Linked DNA regions of Homo sapiens. The protein of the gene in region 2 purifies or fractionates together with the protein of the main gene of each other region. This does not show direct contact. Each region holds a gene or a part of one and is shown on either strand. Other genes may lie near its edges.

Evidence for each region. Proteins that work in one complex are often made in the same cells at the same time.
Region 1: the proteins of LRRC41 (region 2) and DRG1 purify together in Homo sapiens (affinity purification with mass spectrometry; 5 studies listed by BioGRID and IntAct, with this or other methods). This does not show direct contact.

Annotation. Positions count from the first base shown.
Region 1 is NC_000022.11:31,394,760-31,402,615, reverse strand, and holds the start of DRG1 (developmentally-regulated GTP-binding protein 1), read right to left. Parts: upstream 3,013-7,856; 5' UTR 2,933-3,012; coding exon 2,891-2,932; intron 1,997-2,890; coding exon 1,873-1,996; intron 1-1,872. UniProt on the Homo sapiens protein: Catalyzes the conversion of GTP to GDP through hydrolysis of the gamma-phosphate bond in GTP. Appears to have an intrinsic GTPase activity that is stimulated by ZC3H15/DFRP1 binding likely by increasing the affinity for the potassium ions.
Region 2 is NC_000001.11:46,300,603-46,307,967, reverse strand, and holds the start of LRRC41 (leucine-rich repeat-containing protein 41), read left to right. Parts: upstream 1-4,351; 5' UTR 4,352-4,645; coding exon 4,646-4,844; intron 4,845-4,936; exon of another isoform or gene 4,937-4,982; coding exon of another isoform or gene 4,983-5,205; intron 5,206-7,365. Other genes in the region: UQCRH (cytochrome b-c1 complex subunit 6, mitochondrial isoform 1 precursor), read right to left, coding at 4,148-4,201. UniProt on the Homo sapiens protein: Probable substrate recognition component of an ECS (Elongin BC-CUL2/5-SOCS-box protein) E3 ubiquitin ligase complex which mediates the ubiquitination and subsequent proteasomal degradation of target proteins.

The sequences.
Region 1 (7,856 bases), on a different chromosome or scaffold from region 2:
GATCGCTTGAGCCCAGGAGGTTGAGGCTGCAGTGAGCTGTGATCACACCACTGTACTCCAGCCTGGGCAACAGAGCAAGACCCTGTCTCGAAAAAAAAAAAAAAAAAAAAGGTACAGCCCAAATATATGTATGAAAAATGATCCAAAAATAGAGTTGTTAGCTACTCTACCTATGGTGTAGCCCTGCTCTGCCTATGGAGGAGCTGCCCTTTTATAACTAAAATAAACAAATTAATTAATTAAAAAGAGTTTTGTTTTTGTTTTTTTGTCTTTCAAATTCTGTAAATTGTATGACTGACTGGGTTTTCTTTTTTTCTTTTTTCTTTTTACAATGGCTGCCAACAAGTTCAGAGTCAAATCTGTGGCCCTTCTCTACCAGGTGCACAGATCTTACGCCATTCCTTTTAGTCCTAAATCTTATCTCGCTTGGCTTCGACTTATTTTTCCTACGTTTTCCCTTTGCATCAATTTTTTTACTTATTTTTAATCTTGTTGATGATATAGGTTTACATTTCTGTAAGCCAATATAAATCTACTTTGGTTTTGTTTTTTCTTTTTTTTTCTTGAGACAGAGTCTAGCTCTGTCACCCAGGCTGGGGTACAGTGGCATGATCTCGGCTCACTGCAACTTCCACCTCCCAGGTTCAAGCGATTCTCCTGCCTCGGCCTCCTGAGTAGCTGGGATTACAGGTTCGTGCTACCATGCCCAGCTAATTTTTGTATTTTTAGCAGAGACGGGGTTTCACCATGTTGGTCAGGCTAGTCTCGAACTCCTGACCTGTGATCTGCCCACTTCGGCCTCCCGAAGTGCTGGGATTACAGGAGTGAGCCACCGCGCCTGGCCCTACTTTGGTTTTCTTAAGATGAGATCTCGCTCTATCACCCAGGATGGAGTGCAGTGGTGCCATCACAACTCACTGCAGCCTCAACCTCCTGGGTTCAAGCAGTCCTCCCAACTCAGCCTCCCAAGTAGCTGAGACCACAAACATGCACCACCATGCTAGGATACTTTTTTTTTTTTTTTTTTTTTTTGAGACAGAGTCTAGCTCTGTAGCCCAGGCTGGAGTGCAGTGGTACAATCTCACTCACTGCTACCTCTGCCTCCTGGGTCCCGATTCAAGCAATTCTCCTGCCTCAGCCTCTCAAATAGCTGGGATTACAGGCATGCGCCACCATGCCCAGCTAATTTTTGTATTTTTAGTAGAGATGGGGTTTCACCATGCTGGCCAAGCTGGTCTTGAACTCCTGATCTCGTGATCCACGCCTTGGCCTCCCAAAGTGCTAGGATTACAGGCGTGAGCCACCGCACCCAGCCTTTTTTTTTTTTTGGTACATCTTCTTTCATACCTATGGGGACCCCTCATTTCTAAGCCCATAGAGACAGGGCTTTGCTGGTTCCGAACTCCTGGCCTCAAGCAATCCTCCCGCCTCAGCCTCCCAAAGTGCTGGAATTACAAGGGTGAGCCACTGCACCCAGCGCATGTAAATCTATTTTGTATCAGTGCAGGATATAAATAAAACTACAGTACACTTAGACAATATTCATTTGCCTCTGAAACCGGCAGAATAAAAATAAACACAGTTCAAGAATTCATGCTTAGAAAATATAAATCTACTTTAGTAGAACATCTTTAGTTATTTTTCTGTTTTTAAAAAACTTTTTTTTTTTTTTGAGATGGGGGTCTATGTTGATCAGGCTGGTCTTGAACTCCTGGCCTCAAGTGATCCTCCTATCTCAGCCTCCCAGCATGCTAGGATTGCAGGCGTTGAGCCACTGCACTGGGCCATCTTTAGTTATTTTTAAACCACATGTATGTACTATTTTGACAAAAATTATACCTAAAAATATATATATTGAAGAAGAACACAAACCTTCTCCTGGACCTCCACCACCACCACCCTTTGGAGTAATGAGTTCTCGACGAAGCTTAGCAAGACGAGCCTTAAGCAGCCCTAAGTGGTGTGCTGTGGCCTTGTTCTTTTGAGTCCGAGCCATCTAAAAGGGAGGAATCACAGCCATAAATTAGAAGCAGTGAACGCTTCCCCCAGCTTTGAGAGGATAATTTTTTTCCCCAAGTCCTACTAATGTTAGCACACCCAGTTTACAGGCTTTAAAAGAGTAAAAGTCCATTATCTCCTCCATCCAGCTCATTTCCCTCACTACAAAGCAAAGCAAAGCCCAAAGAGGAAAGACGATTAAGGTCATTCCAATTAGTGCCCCCAGACTAGACTGAAACCCGTCTGCGGGTTCCTTTTCTACTATTTGCAGCTGTTTGGATCCATCTAACACTGGGACACCACTTTCCTAATTGTAAAGCGCTCTCAGGGCCGCACGCAATGGAATCACACACTATCCAGGCGGAATAAACTGCTCCCACACAGATGTCATTTTACTTCCAGATCCGATTACCGGGAGCAAATACTCTGAATCAGGGGGTCATTAGGGTAGACACTGGGAAAAGGGGGAATAAGGGGGACGCAGCGAAGGATGATGAGGAAAGATCCTGAACTATCTGACCAAGTCAGAGATGGAATAAGGGACAGGATTCAGTGTTTCTCAGAGCAAAACGGAAAGAAACAACATCAGAACAGGAGCCAAACACTGGGAGGGGGAACGGACTAAGGGCCTAAGGTGCAGGGGTGCGGAACGCGGGCCCGGGCAAAGGGGAGTCCGAGAGCGTAGACGCGGGACGAGGGGAAAGGGGGCCCTGACTGAGGAGAGTCGGGGACTCCTAATCGTGGCAGAGGGCAGTCGGAACACGGGCCTCGCTGAGAGAAGTCGCGGAATCTAGGCCCGGTCCTGACGCGGCTCAAAGGAGAACAGGAAGGAGCGACGCCACCAAAGAAGGAATGCTCAGACTAAGAGTGAACCGCCAGCTGCGTCCATTACCTCTGCTTCTATCTCCGCGATCTTAGCTAAGGTGCTGCTCATCGTGGCGAGTACCCTGTGGCCTCCACACTGTCTCCCTTCACACACCCGCGGGCAAACTGCCACCGCCACCAGGCGCTACTGCAGCACGCAGGCGCGGTACTTCGAATTACCGCGAGAGAGTTCCGCGTAGGGGTCACCGCGAGTCGCAAAGCGTGGGGCTGTCTCCTCCCCCTCACCCGACCCCGCCCCGTCCCGCGAGCCAGTGCGGTGTCATAGAGCCCGCGGGAGCGGAGGCCAGAGAGGCCACCCCTGTCTGGGCCTCCCCGAGCGCGCCGAGGGTCGCGCGCAGCTCGGCCCCGCCCAGCGGGACCCGCTCCCAGCTGCTCTGCATGGTACTGAACGCTTCAGTGCTGGAGACCCCAGGGCGTGGTGCAAAGCCGACTCATGCTCCGCACCCCTGTTCCTCGCCAGCATCTGCGGGTCCTGGGTCCCTTTTTCACAGCTGGGGTGACACCCCGACGCCCTCCATGGTCTTGGAGGGAGTAGAGACCCATCTTCAGCCTGCCTCACCCCCTTGGATAAAGAAAATGCCCCCTTTCTATCATTCAAAATTATTTTTAGGTCGGTTTTGTTTACTCCGAACCCCGAGTAGAGCACATGGGGAGCCCAAAATAAGTGCATACTTGAATGGATAATTCCCAGAGAACTGCTGCTTGCAACATAGTTTGTAATACCAAAAAATTGAAATCTATATTAACACCCATCAGTAGGAAAATGGATAAATGAATAATGCCTCTATCCTGTTTTTGAAATATGATTACAGCCGTTAAAACGTAGATCTGTGGTCTGACTGGCTACCCAGGACATGTTAAATGGGAAAACAACTAGCAGAAGGGCACCTACGTAGTGATACCATTTATGTTATTTTTAAAATTAAATGTACATTTATATAGGTGTACGTGTATGAACGTGCAGTTTAAAGGCCTAAACAGAAAAATACATCAGAAGCTCTTAACTGTGGGATGGGATGCAAAGAAAAGGCCTTTCACATTTTATTCCACAGAATTTTGAAGTTAAATTTTTACAAGACGAATGTATCCATGTATTACTTGTGTAATAATAAAATTTAAAATTTCAAAAGACTCCTCTTCCCCAAGTGTCATGAGGAAGCCAGGACGTCCAGGAACTATGTGGTGGTTTTGAAAGCGGTTTGCCTCAGGATCAATGGGTTGTTTTGATAGATTGATTATTCCAGCGGGAGTCGACAGGCCAGGCTTAACCCACAGTCGACAGGCCAGGCTTAACCCACAGGGCTGGCCTCCACCCAGCCCTGGGAGGGAAGTTTAATTTAGTTAAATTTGTAAACAAGAACTATTCTAACTTCCCAGAGACAAAAAAGGGAGGTTTTCTTGTGCATAAAGAGGGAGAAACAGAAGGGAAAGCTTTTACAGAAGGTCCCCAAAGGGCCAAAGAGAGTTTCTTCTTTCTTTTCTTTAACCTCAGCCTTTTTCATAAATAAATTAAGGGATGATGAGGTAATTAGATCCCACACTATTAGCAATGGAGGAGGGAAGATGAGGAGGTCCAGCTGGAATGGGACATGATCAAAGATCAATCTTAAAAGACAGATAAAATCAAATCAGCAGGCCTATCCTAACTTGAAGTACTTAAGGAATTAATTGGCTGACAATATCAAGGGCATCACTGCTCTGTGAGTAGGTGCTCCTTAGCAAATCTATTATATGAGGCCTGCAGATAAGTTAACACTTACTGCTCAAAGACACCCTGGGACCCACCTTGGGGCCCTGAACTGTCAATAGGCACCAAAGAGTAATACTCATTTTCCCGAGTCCTGGGTGGCCATCCTGTTCATGCAATCGTTATTTACAGAGCTCCAACTGCTGCCTGGCACTGTGACAACACTGGGGACAGAGTAGAGAGTGAATCAGATATGTTCCTGCACATAACAAGTATTTAGGCCGGGCGCGGTGGCTCATGCCTGTAATCCCAGCACTTTGGGAGGCCGAGGTGGGTGGCAGATCACGAGGTCAGGAGATCGAGACCATCCTGGCTAATACGGTGAAACCCGGTGTCTACTAAAAATACAAAAAATTAGCCAGGCATGATGGCATGCACCTGTAGTCCCAGCTACTCAGGAAGCTGAGGCAGGAAAATCCCTTGAACCCGGGAGGCGGAGGTTGCAGTGAACCAAGAATGTGCCACTGCACTCCAGCCTGGCGACAGAGGGAGACTCAGTCTCAAAAAAAAAAAGTATCCAGGCTGGGGCTGGGCACAGTGGCTCACCCCTGTAATCCCAGCACTTTGGGAGGCCGAGGCAGGTGGATCACCTGAGGTCAGGAGTTCGAGACCAGCCTGGCCAGCATGGTGAAACCCCGTCTCTATTAAAAATACTAAAATTAGCCGGGCGTGGTGGCGGGCGCCTGTAATCCCAGCTACTCAGGAGGCTGAGCAGGAGAATCGCTTGAACCCGGGAGGCAGAGGTTGTAGTGAGCCGAGATCATGCCATTGCACTACAGCCTGGAGCCAGGACGACAAGAGCGAGACTCTATCTCAAGGAAGAAAAAAAAAGAAGTATCCAGGCTGGGAGGCCAAGGCCAGGACCTTAGGTTCAGCTCCTAAGAGCCATAGCTACCCCATGTCTGTTAAGTACCAACTGCAGCAAGGAGAGCCCATTTGGTCATATGAATAAAGCACTAGCACCTTGGTATTAAATGTGTAAAAAATAAATAGGCCGGGGACAGTGGCTCACAGTTTAATCCCAGTGCTTTCAGAGGTTGAGGTGGGAGGATCGCTTGAGGCCAGGAGTTCAAGACCAGCCTGGGCATTGAAGCCAGGAGTTCAAGACCTGCCTGGGCAACATAGGGAGACGCCCCATCTCTACAAAAAAAAAAAAATTAGCCGGTCTGCAAAAAATTTAAAAATTAGCCAGACGTGGTAGCACATACCTGTAGTCTGAGCTATGTGTGAGGCTGAGGCAGGAGGATCACTTGAGCCCAGGAGGTCAAGGCCACAGTAAGCCATGATCAGATCACTGCACTCCAGCTTGGGTAACAGCAAGACCCTGTCTCAAAAAAAAAAAAAAAAATTATTCAGGCTTGTTGGCCCGCACCTGTAGTCCTAGCTACTGGGAAGGCTCAGGCAGGAGGTTCACTGGAGCCCAGGACTTTGACGTTACACTGGGCTATGATCCCACCACTGCACTCCAGCCTGGGTGAAAGAGCGAGAAACTACCTCTAAAATAAATAATAAATAAGTAAAACAAAGATTGACAGAAAAGCTTCATCTCTTGATGAGACACTCCCACCATTCCAGAACAATTATATGTGGTCAAATACATAGGCTTTCTCGGGCACTGTTTTACTTCTCTTGACTCCCATTAAACCATGATCCCTGGCCAGGTTTGGTGGCTCACGCCTGGCTCACTCCCAGCACTTTGGGAGGCCAAGGCAGAAGGATCGCTTAAGCCCAGGAGTTTGGGACCAGCCTGGGTAACACAGCAATACCTCATCTCTACGAAAATAAAAAAAATTAGCTGGGTACAGGGGGCAACATGACGAAACCCCGTCTCTACAAAAAATCAGTGTGGTGGTATAATCTCAGCTACTCGGGAGGCTGAGGTGGGCCCAAGAAGACGAGGCTGCAGTAAGCTGTGATCATGCCACTGCACTTCAGCCTGGGTGACAGAGTGGGACCCTGTCTCAAAAAAACAAAACAGACAAAGAAGAAAAAAACAAAACAAAAAAGACATGATCCCATGAGGAAGGAGTGATACTATATCTATCTCCAGCACCAGCAGATGTGCAGCTACAACAACCTCTTGAAAGATATTTTAAAAATGGAAATTTTAAGAGAGAAATTGTTTTTTTTCAAGAAGCAGAAAAGATGTTTGAAGTGATGTATATCCCAGTTACTCTGATTTTATGACACATTGTATACATGTATCAAAATACCACATGTAGCCCCCAAATATGTACAACTATTAAATATCAACAAAAATTTTAGAATAAAATAACATAAAGAGAAAGAAAAAGTATTTAATTTTTTTTCTAAGTAGTCTGTATATGTTATTATAGACACCTTAATAATTGAGTCAGGTTGATGGAAGAAGTAACAGGATAATGATACAAGAAAAATCCATGTTATTTATTTATTTATTTATTATGAGACAGGGTCTTACTGTGTCACCCAGACTGGAGTGCAGTGGTGCAATCTAGGCTCACTGCAACCTCCGCCTCCAGGGCTCAGGCCATCCTCCCACCTCAGCCTCCCAAGTAGCTGGAACCACAGGCTTGCACTGCCATGCCCAACTTTTTTTTTTTTTTTTGTATTTTTAGTAGAGACAGGGTCTCACCATGTTACCTAGGCTGGTCTTGAACTCCTAAACTCAAGTGATCCACCCACCACGGCCTCTCAAAGTGCTGGGATTACAGGCATGAGCCACCACATTCAGCCATTACCATTTTTTTAAGGCTACCTTCTAAACAGATCAAAATTCCAAGTATATTGTAGCAGTAGAGAATGGGAAGCCCTGGATGAAGGATAGTGATTAACTTCATTACTGAGTGATAGATGTTTTCCTTTTAGAATGGGGAATCTCAGATGGGTATGGTGGCTCACACCTGTAATCCCAGCACTTCGGGAGGCCAAGGCAGGAGGATCGCTTCAGCCTAGGAGTTTGAGACCAGCCTGGGCAACATGGCAAGACTCCATCTCTATGAAAAAATAAAATAAGAAAGGGGAATCTCAGGAATGAGCACATCTAGGGCATAATGAAGACAGTTTTTCCCCTACAAATGTGTCTCATAAATGGAAAAAATAAAAGTTTATAAAAGTACTCCTTAAATCAAAGTCTGCTTCTTTCACCATCCAAGTTGGTGATTCCTTGATCCATGTCTAGTCATTTCAGTTCAGTTTGTATTATATGCCAGGGATGGTGACAGACACTGGGAATACAAAGAGACTT
Region 2 (7,365 bases):
CATGGGGCCTACATAATCTAAAGTATTTGTCCCAGTATTGCTACAAATAGCAAAATTTAGTCCTTACATCCCAAACCAAGTTAGGAGGAAAACCCATTTTTTTCTAGACTGTGAACTTGAATTAGGAATATGAAAACTGCTAAACCTAAAAACCCTTGTTTGGTCAGAGCTTAACTAAGGATGGTTAGTCACTGCTTTTTGGCTTGCTGAACTCCCAGAACCCCTAGTAGACTAAGTATATCAAATAAAAGTGCACAACTCCACTCATGAGCTTGGAAATACAGAACAGACCCCACCTATTCACTTCTGATTCAAATGCACAACCTCAAACTTAGTTTCCTTCTTCTTCAAGGATAGTAGTGTAAAAAACTGCCCATGGGAGCAACAGTTTAGGCCTAAATTTGGGATATAGTAAAATCTGACCTCAGAAATAAGGTGTTTGCCTGCCTGTGCATGCAGATACCCACATTTGGGGGCAAGGAAAGAAAAGGTATCTAGGGAAATAAAAAGAACTAGCTCAGGAATCATGTTTTCAGAACTCCAATACAGGGCCAGGTGAGAGGACTGCTTGAGACCAGCCTGGGCAACATGACAAGACCCCATCTCTAAAAAAATTAAAAACAGGCTGGGCATAGTGGTTCACACCTGTAATCCCAGCACTTTGGGAGGCTGAGGTGGCCAGATCACCTGAGGTCAGGAGTTCTCAATCAGCCCGGCCACCATGGTGAAACCCCGTCTCTACTAAAAATACAAAAATTACCTGGGCATGGTGGCACGCGCCTGAAATCCCAGCTACTCAGGAGGCTGAGGCAGGAGAATCACCTGAAACCAGGAGGCAGAGGTTGCAGGAGCCAAGATCCTACCCCTGCACTCCAGCCTGGGCGACAGAGAGACTCCGTCTCAAAAATAAATAAATTAGCCGGGCATGGTGGCGCACGTCTGTGGTCATGGCTACTCAGAAGGCCGAGGTGGGAGGATCCCTTGAGCCCAGGGGTTTGAGGCTGCAGTGAGCTATGACTGTACCACTGCACCCCAGTCTGGGTGACAAGAGTGAGACCCCGTCTCCAAAAAAAGTCCTAATACATGTTTCATCCTCTACCATGCCATTCAGTGAAGCCACCAAAGCTCATACAAGCTGGGAGTGAGGGGTAGGAAAGGTTCAATTTGGAATCCAGGCTATTTATTCTCACAATTGGCAAAGGTTTCTTCTAAATATGAAGATGCTATTTAGGATGTAAATTCTAGTTTTTCATTAACAAGGTTTCTTAATGCTGCTCTTTTAAAAAACATACTGAAAGCCGGGTGCAGTGGCTCATGTCTGTAATCCCAGCACTTTGGGAGGCCAAGGCAGGAGGATCACGAGGTCAAGAGATTGAGACCATCCTGGCCAACATGGTGAAACCCCATCTCTACTAAAATTACAAAAATTAGCTGGGCGTGATGGCACACGCCTGTAGTCCCAGCTACTCGGGAGACTGAGGCAGGAGCATTGCCTGAACCCAGGAGGCAGAGGTTGCAGTGAGATCGCGCCACTGTACTCCAGCCAGGCAAGAGCGAGACTCCGTCACAAAAAAAAAAAAAAAAAAACTGAAAAAGTTTTCCCAAAAAAACTAAAATTACATTCTGCCCGAGTTAGAAAACAGAAATTAGGACCGTAGATACAAGACCCTTATATCATTTCCCTATTAGCAATGCTACAACACTGGTAATTCTGTGTCACTGATAATTTTGTGTCAAAAATAACATGGCAGGTTTTGAAAAAATAAATCCAAATATGTTTGAATATGGATTGCTACATGTAAAATTTCCAGTCACTGAGAAAAACCAAGATCACACCAGATAAAAAGATTTAATCCTCAATAATTTTGCGTTCCTCAGCCGGGCGCGGTGGCTCAGGCCTGTAATCCCAGCACTTTGGGAGGCCGAGGAGGGCGGATCAGGAGGTCAGATCCAGACCATCCTGGCTAACACGGTGAAACCCTGTCTCTACTAAAAATACAAAAATTAGGTGGCGTGCGCCTGTAATTTCAGCTACTCAGGAGGCTGAGGCAAAAGAGAATCGCTTGAACCCGGGAGCGGAGGTTGCAGTGAGCCGGATCACGCCACTGCACTCCAGCCTGGGAGACAGAGCAAGATTCCGTCTCAAAAAAAAAAAATTATGGGTTCCTCATAGAATACCATAGTTTATTTTATTTTATTTATTTATTTATTTATTTTGAGACGGAGTCTCGCTCTGTCGCCCAGGCTGGAGTGCAGTGGCGCGACCTTGGCTCACTGCAAGCTTCGCCTCTCGGGTTGACGCCATTCTGCCTCAGCCTCTCGAGTAGCTGGGACTACAGGCGCCCGCCGCCACGCCCGGCTAATTTTTTGTATTTTCAGTAGAGAAGGGGTTTCACCATGTTAGCCAGGATGGTTTGGATCTCCTGACCTCCTGATCCACCCGCCTCGGCCTCCCGATCCACCCGCCTCGGCCTCCCGATCCACCCGCCTCGGCCTCCCAAAGTGCTGGGATTACAGGCATGAGCCACCGCGCCCGGCCAGAATACCCTAGTTTAAAACTGACTGCTTAATTACTTGCTTTTTCTCATCTATTGCAGCGGTGGATCTTGCTGACCTTTCTGAGGCAGGCTCCATTTCTTTCTTTAGTTTTTTTTTTTTTTTTTTTTTTTGAGACAGGGTCTCACTCGGGTTGCCTCGGCTGGAGTGCAGTGACACGATCACGGCTCACTGCAGCCTGGACTTCCTGGGCTCAAACTCCCGAGCAGTTGAGACCACAGGCGTTCACCACCATGCCCGGCTAATTTTTATATTTTTTGTAGAGACGGGGTTTCGCCACGTTGCCCAGGCTGGTCCAACTCCTGGACTCATGCTACCTGTCTGCCTCGGCCGTCCTCCTAAAGTGTTGGGATTACAGGCGTGAGCCACTGCGCCCGGCCTCAGGTTCTATTTCTTTTTAGAAATAATAAGACTAGAAAAATTAAGGGATAAATAAGTCTCCAATTATTCTGAACCCACAGCCCAGAATGGCTGCCCCCAAGTGACCAGAGAACAGACGGACAGGAAATGAGATTAGAAACAACTAGTAGCTGTGTCGCAAAATTGATAAGAGTCCTGGTTCTAGAACCGCGCTGCTTGGCCGCAATTCCTGGCTGCACCAATTTGGTAGCTGCATGACCTTAGAAAAGATATTTAACCTCTATGCTTGTTTCCTCATCTGTAAAAATGGCACTAATAGTACCCAACACTTACTTCATAGGAATAGTGTGTAGATGAAATGAATTAGGGCCGGGCGCGGTGGCTCACGCCTGTAATCCCAGGACTTTGGGAGGCCGGGGTGGGCGGATCACTAGGTCAGGAGTTCGAGATCAGCCTGGCCAACAGAGTGAAACCCCCGTCGCTACTAAAAACACAAAAATTAGCCAGGCGTGGTGGCGGACACCTGTAGTCCCAGCTACCTGGGAGGCTGAGGCAGGAGAATCGCTTGAACCCAGGAGGCGGAGGTTGCAGCGAGCCGAGACCACGCCACTGCACTCCAGCCTGGGCGACAGAGCGAGATTCCATCTCAAAAAAAAAAAAAAAATTAATTAGTGCATATAAAGCACTTGGAATAGCAAGCAGTCAATAATTATAGCAGCACTCTTTCTCTGGGAAAGAGCTCCCTCTTCCATCACAGAATCACATCGTACATTCTTTCATTGTCCCCAAAGACACACACCTTCCTCAAAGAAAAGGAACACAAGGCCAGGTCTTCCGAACCTCCATAGAAGATGTGGTAGGGATTCCTAACCTGAGCTGGGGCAAGGCGGTCTGTTTGCTCCCCAAATCTGTGAAACGCGGGCTTCAGAACATCTGACTGACTGCAAACATAGGTCATATTTTTACAAGACTTTAGTCCACAAAACATTTTCGCTCTCAAACCTTCACTACATTCACAGAATGCAGAAGCCGAGGCCCAGAGAAAAACTAGTCATCTATCTGTCCAAAGTCACCGGACGAATTCTGGGGAAAGGTCGAGGGAACTAGAGCTCCCGACTATGCAAACCCTAGAGGGTAAACTGGGGGCTAAGAGGGCCCCGTGCGTGTTTTGGCGGGCTAGGTCCTGGGCTTCAGGGCAGAGAAGAGGGCCGAGTGGATCGCCTTGCCTTACCTCCTCAGGATCTCCGGATTCGGTAAGCATCTTTTGCTCGTCCTCCAGTCCCATGTCTGGCTACGGTTCTAGATTCAACACGAGCAGCAACAGCGGCACCTAACCCAGTTCAGGATCAAGAAGGACTTGTAAGGGTCACTCAGCGGAAATCCGGCGATCTGGCCGGAAGTGCGGCACACTCATCGTGGTCGCGAACACATGCTCAGATTGGCATGTACTACCAGCCGCAGGCAGAGGTTAGGGGTAGCTGATGTTTGCACCCGAGGAGGCTTTGCTAAGAAACATCCCCTTAGTCATACCACACCCAAGTATAATTGATCTAGGAGTTTATCTAAAATAGTAGCTCCTAAGAGACTTGGAAAGTGTGCTAATTTCTTCGAAATTTCTTTAGAATAATTCACATTCTTCCCCATATCGCTTATGGAGCCGTCCTAACTGCTGACCTTTTCAAGATGGCGGTCCGCGGGCGACACTCTCGGGCTCGCGCACCTCCCCAAGATGGCGGCGCCCGAGGCCTGGCGCGCCCGGAGTTGCTGGTTCTGTGAGGTAGCGGCGGCAACGACCATGGAGGCCACGTCCCGGGAGGCGGCGCCAGCGAAGAGCTCGGCCTCGGGCCCCAACGCTCCCCCCGCCCTGTTCGAGCTGTGCGGGCGGGCGGTGAGCGCCCATATGGGGGTTCTGGAGAGCGGGGTGTGGGGTAAGTCGCGGGGTGAGGGGCTACCTCTGGCTAAGAGCAAGGGGCGGCCCAGCGGCCGGGGGGCGCGGGGGGCGAGGCCGGGAGGCCCGGGGCAAGGCCCAGCCTGGGGCGCTGAAAGCCAGCTCGTAGGATCGGAGAATGAATTTTGTGACTGACAGGGCTGGACAGAGTAAAGACGGAGACCTAAATGGGCAGGCTGACCCGCACCGCGGCCTGGCTCGGGGGCGCGGGGGGCGAGGCCAGGAGGCCCGGTCTGGAGCGAAGCAGGCTGGGCCCGGGCGACTGAGGCTGGATTGCGGCTGTGGGCCGCGCGAACTGACACTCGGCTGGGCCGGGCAGGAGAGTCTCGGATGTCGAACCGGTGGGCAGCGATGGCCCGGCTGCCCTAGGGCAGGGGCCGAGGTTAGGAGGCCCGGCCTAAGGCAAGGCCAGGCCAGGCCCGGGGCCACCGAACCTGACTGATGGCCCCGGGGCTCCAGCATCTGCCTGACACGCCACGGGGGTCGAGATTCCGGAGGCCAAGCCGATGGGCGGAGGGGAGGACAGCAGATTGGAGAGCGAGGGAATGGGGCAGGGGGAGAGGCCGAACGAAAGGGTCGGGGCGCCGCGGCCTGTCTGACGGCCCAGGGCTGACGGGAGCGAACCGACAACCGGGGTCTCGGGTGCCAAACTGACTAAGCGACCGAGCGACCGTGCGACCCGCAGGACAGGGAGCGCCGGAGGCCACTCGGATCGGCTCGAGCGGCGAGGAGGGACCGGAGAGCGAGTGGAGGGGGGCCCGGAGCGGCTTAAACAAGCGAGGGAGGCTCGAATGACGGACAGGCGGGAAGGGCCAAGGAGGCCCCAAGCGGGGCGACGGCCCGGGGATCCCGGACTGCCGGGCTGCCGTGGCAGGGGGCGCGGCGCCGCCAAGAGGCCTTGGGCTGAATGGGAGTGAACGGGGGCCCCAGGCCTGAAGGCGGCCGGGACCAAAGGGCCGGGCCTGGATGGAGGGCGGCCTGGGGCGCCGGGATGAACGGCCGGGGAGGGCGAACCGGCCAGTTGGGCTGGGAGGCGGGGCTGTGGGTTGGGGACCGCTGGCCGCGGCCTGGCCGCTGACGAGGGAAACTTGGGTCCGACGTGGGGCAAGTGAAAGAGGGGAAAGTGAGGCTCTGCCAAGCAGGCCTAGCCGCGCTGGGGACAGGGGAGGCCTCGGGCCTGAGAGGCTGCTGGCTCTGTGAGGGTGGGGTCGGGAGGCCGGGGTTGGAGTTGGGCGAAGAGGTGGCAGGCCCGGCCGAGGCCTGCTGGGGAGGGGGGCAGGAGAGCAGGCCCCGGGCCTGGAAGCGGCGCGGGGGAGGTTCCACCAGGAGGCCTTGCGGGTGGCCGTGGCGTCTTTGCAGGAGGAAGGCCCTGGTCAGGACAGGAGTGAGGACTTTGAGGACTCGAGGTTGCAGGGCGCGGAGTTTGAGTTATGCCATGAGGAGGGGGTGTGGGGAAAAGGCCCTGGAGTTTGGGGGGACTGAAGCTCCGGGATAAGCTGGAGGGTGGTCGGGGAGGCCCTTGGCTGTGGGAGTGGAGCCCAGTACCATGAGGCCTGAGTGTCCTGCATAGTGGTGGTGGAAGAGGCTTTTAGAAGTCGGCCGGTGTGCGGAGGGGACAGTGGAGGCCCCAGGCCAGCCAGCGGCTGAGAAGACAAGGGGCAGGCCGACCCATGGGGAACAGGAGGAAAGGCTCCGTAGAGCTGAGCAGGGAGCTCAGAAAAGTCCTAGGGCATGGGGAAGAAGGCAGAGAGGGTCTGGCTTTTCCGCCTGGAGCTTCTGGGATGCTAAGACTGGCTAAAAAGGAAGATGACTGGGTGCGGAGGCCCAGGTTGGGAAGCAGCAGCATTAAAGGTGCAGGCTAGAAAGAAGCAAGGAAAATCCCGGCTTAAGAAGAATGGAGAAAGGAAGAGAGGAGTTTGTGGGTAACTGGGGATGAGAATTCCTGTGGCTGCAAGAAGAGATGGCTAACTAGAGGGGAGCAGGTTGGAGGGAAAAGGGGTAAGGCTCTGGAGGAACTTCTTCCCGTGTGGCCTCTTCCCCCTAAAACAATTGACAGTTTACTGAATCTCCCTTTCCCCTTCTCCCTCCCCTACCACTGCTGTACATACCACCATCCCATTACTGGCTGAGCCCCCAGCCAAGTTGAGAGGAGACAGGGGAGGAAGAGCTCCTGTGGGCCTAGACCAGAAAAAGCTGAATCAAGTGAGGCCTTTTAGGAGAATAGCCAAGGAAGAGGCCTGCTAAGCATTGCTATTTTAGAGGAAGGTCTGTGTGGGCTAACAGCCAGGAAAGGCTTCCTGGAGGTAGTGGACTAGCATCGCTTTGTGTAAGGAGTTGGGGCAGCGGGTGTATAGAGGCAGCAGGAAAGGGTACAATGAGGAAACTTTAAAATAAGGTATATTATACCTTGAATACCAGGATATGGAGTTTGGACTTTATCATGAATGCAGCAGAGAGACCTCCAAGGGTTTTGAAGAGGGTAGTGTCATCACCAAGAGCAG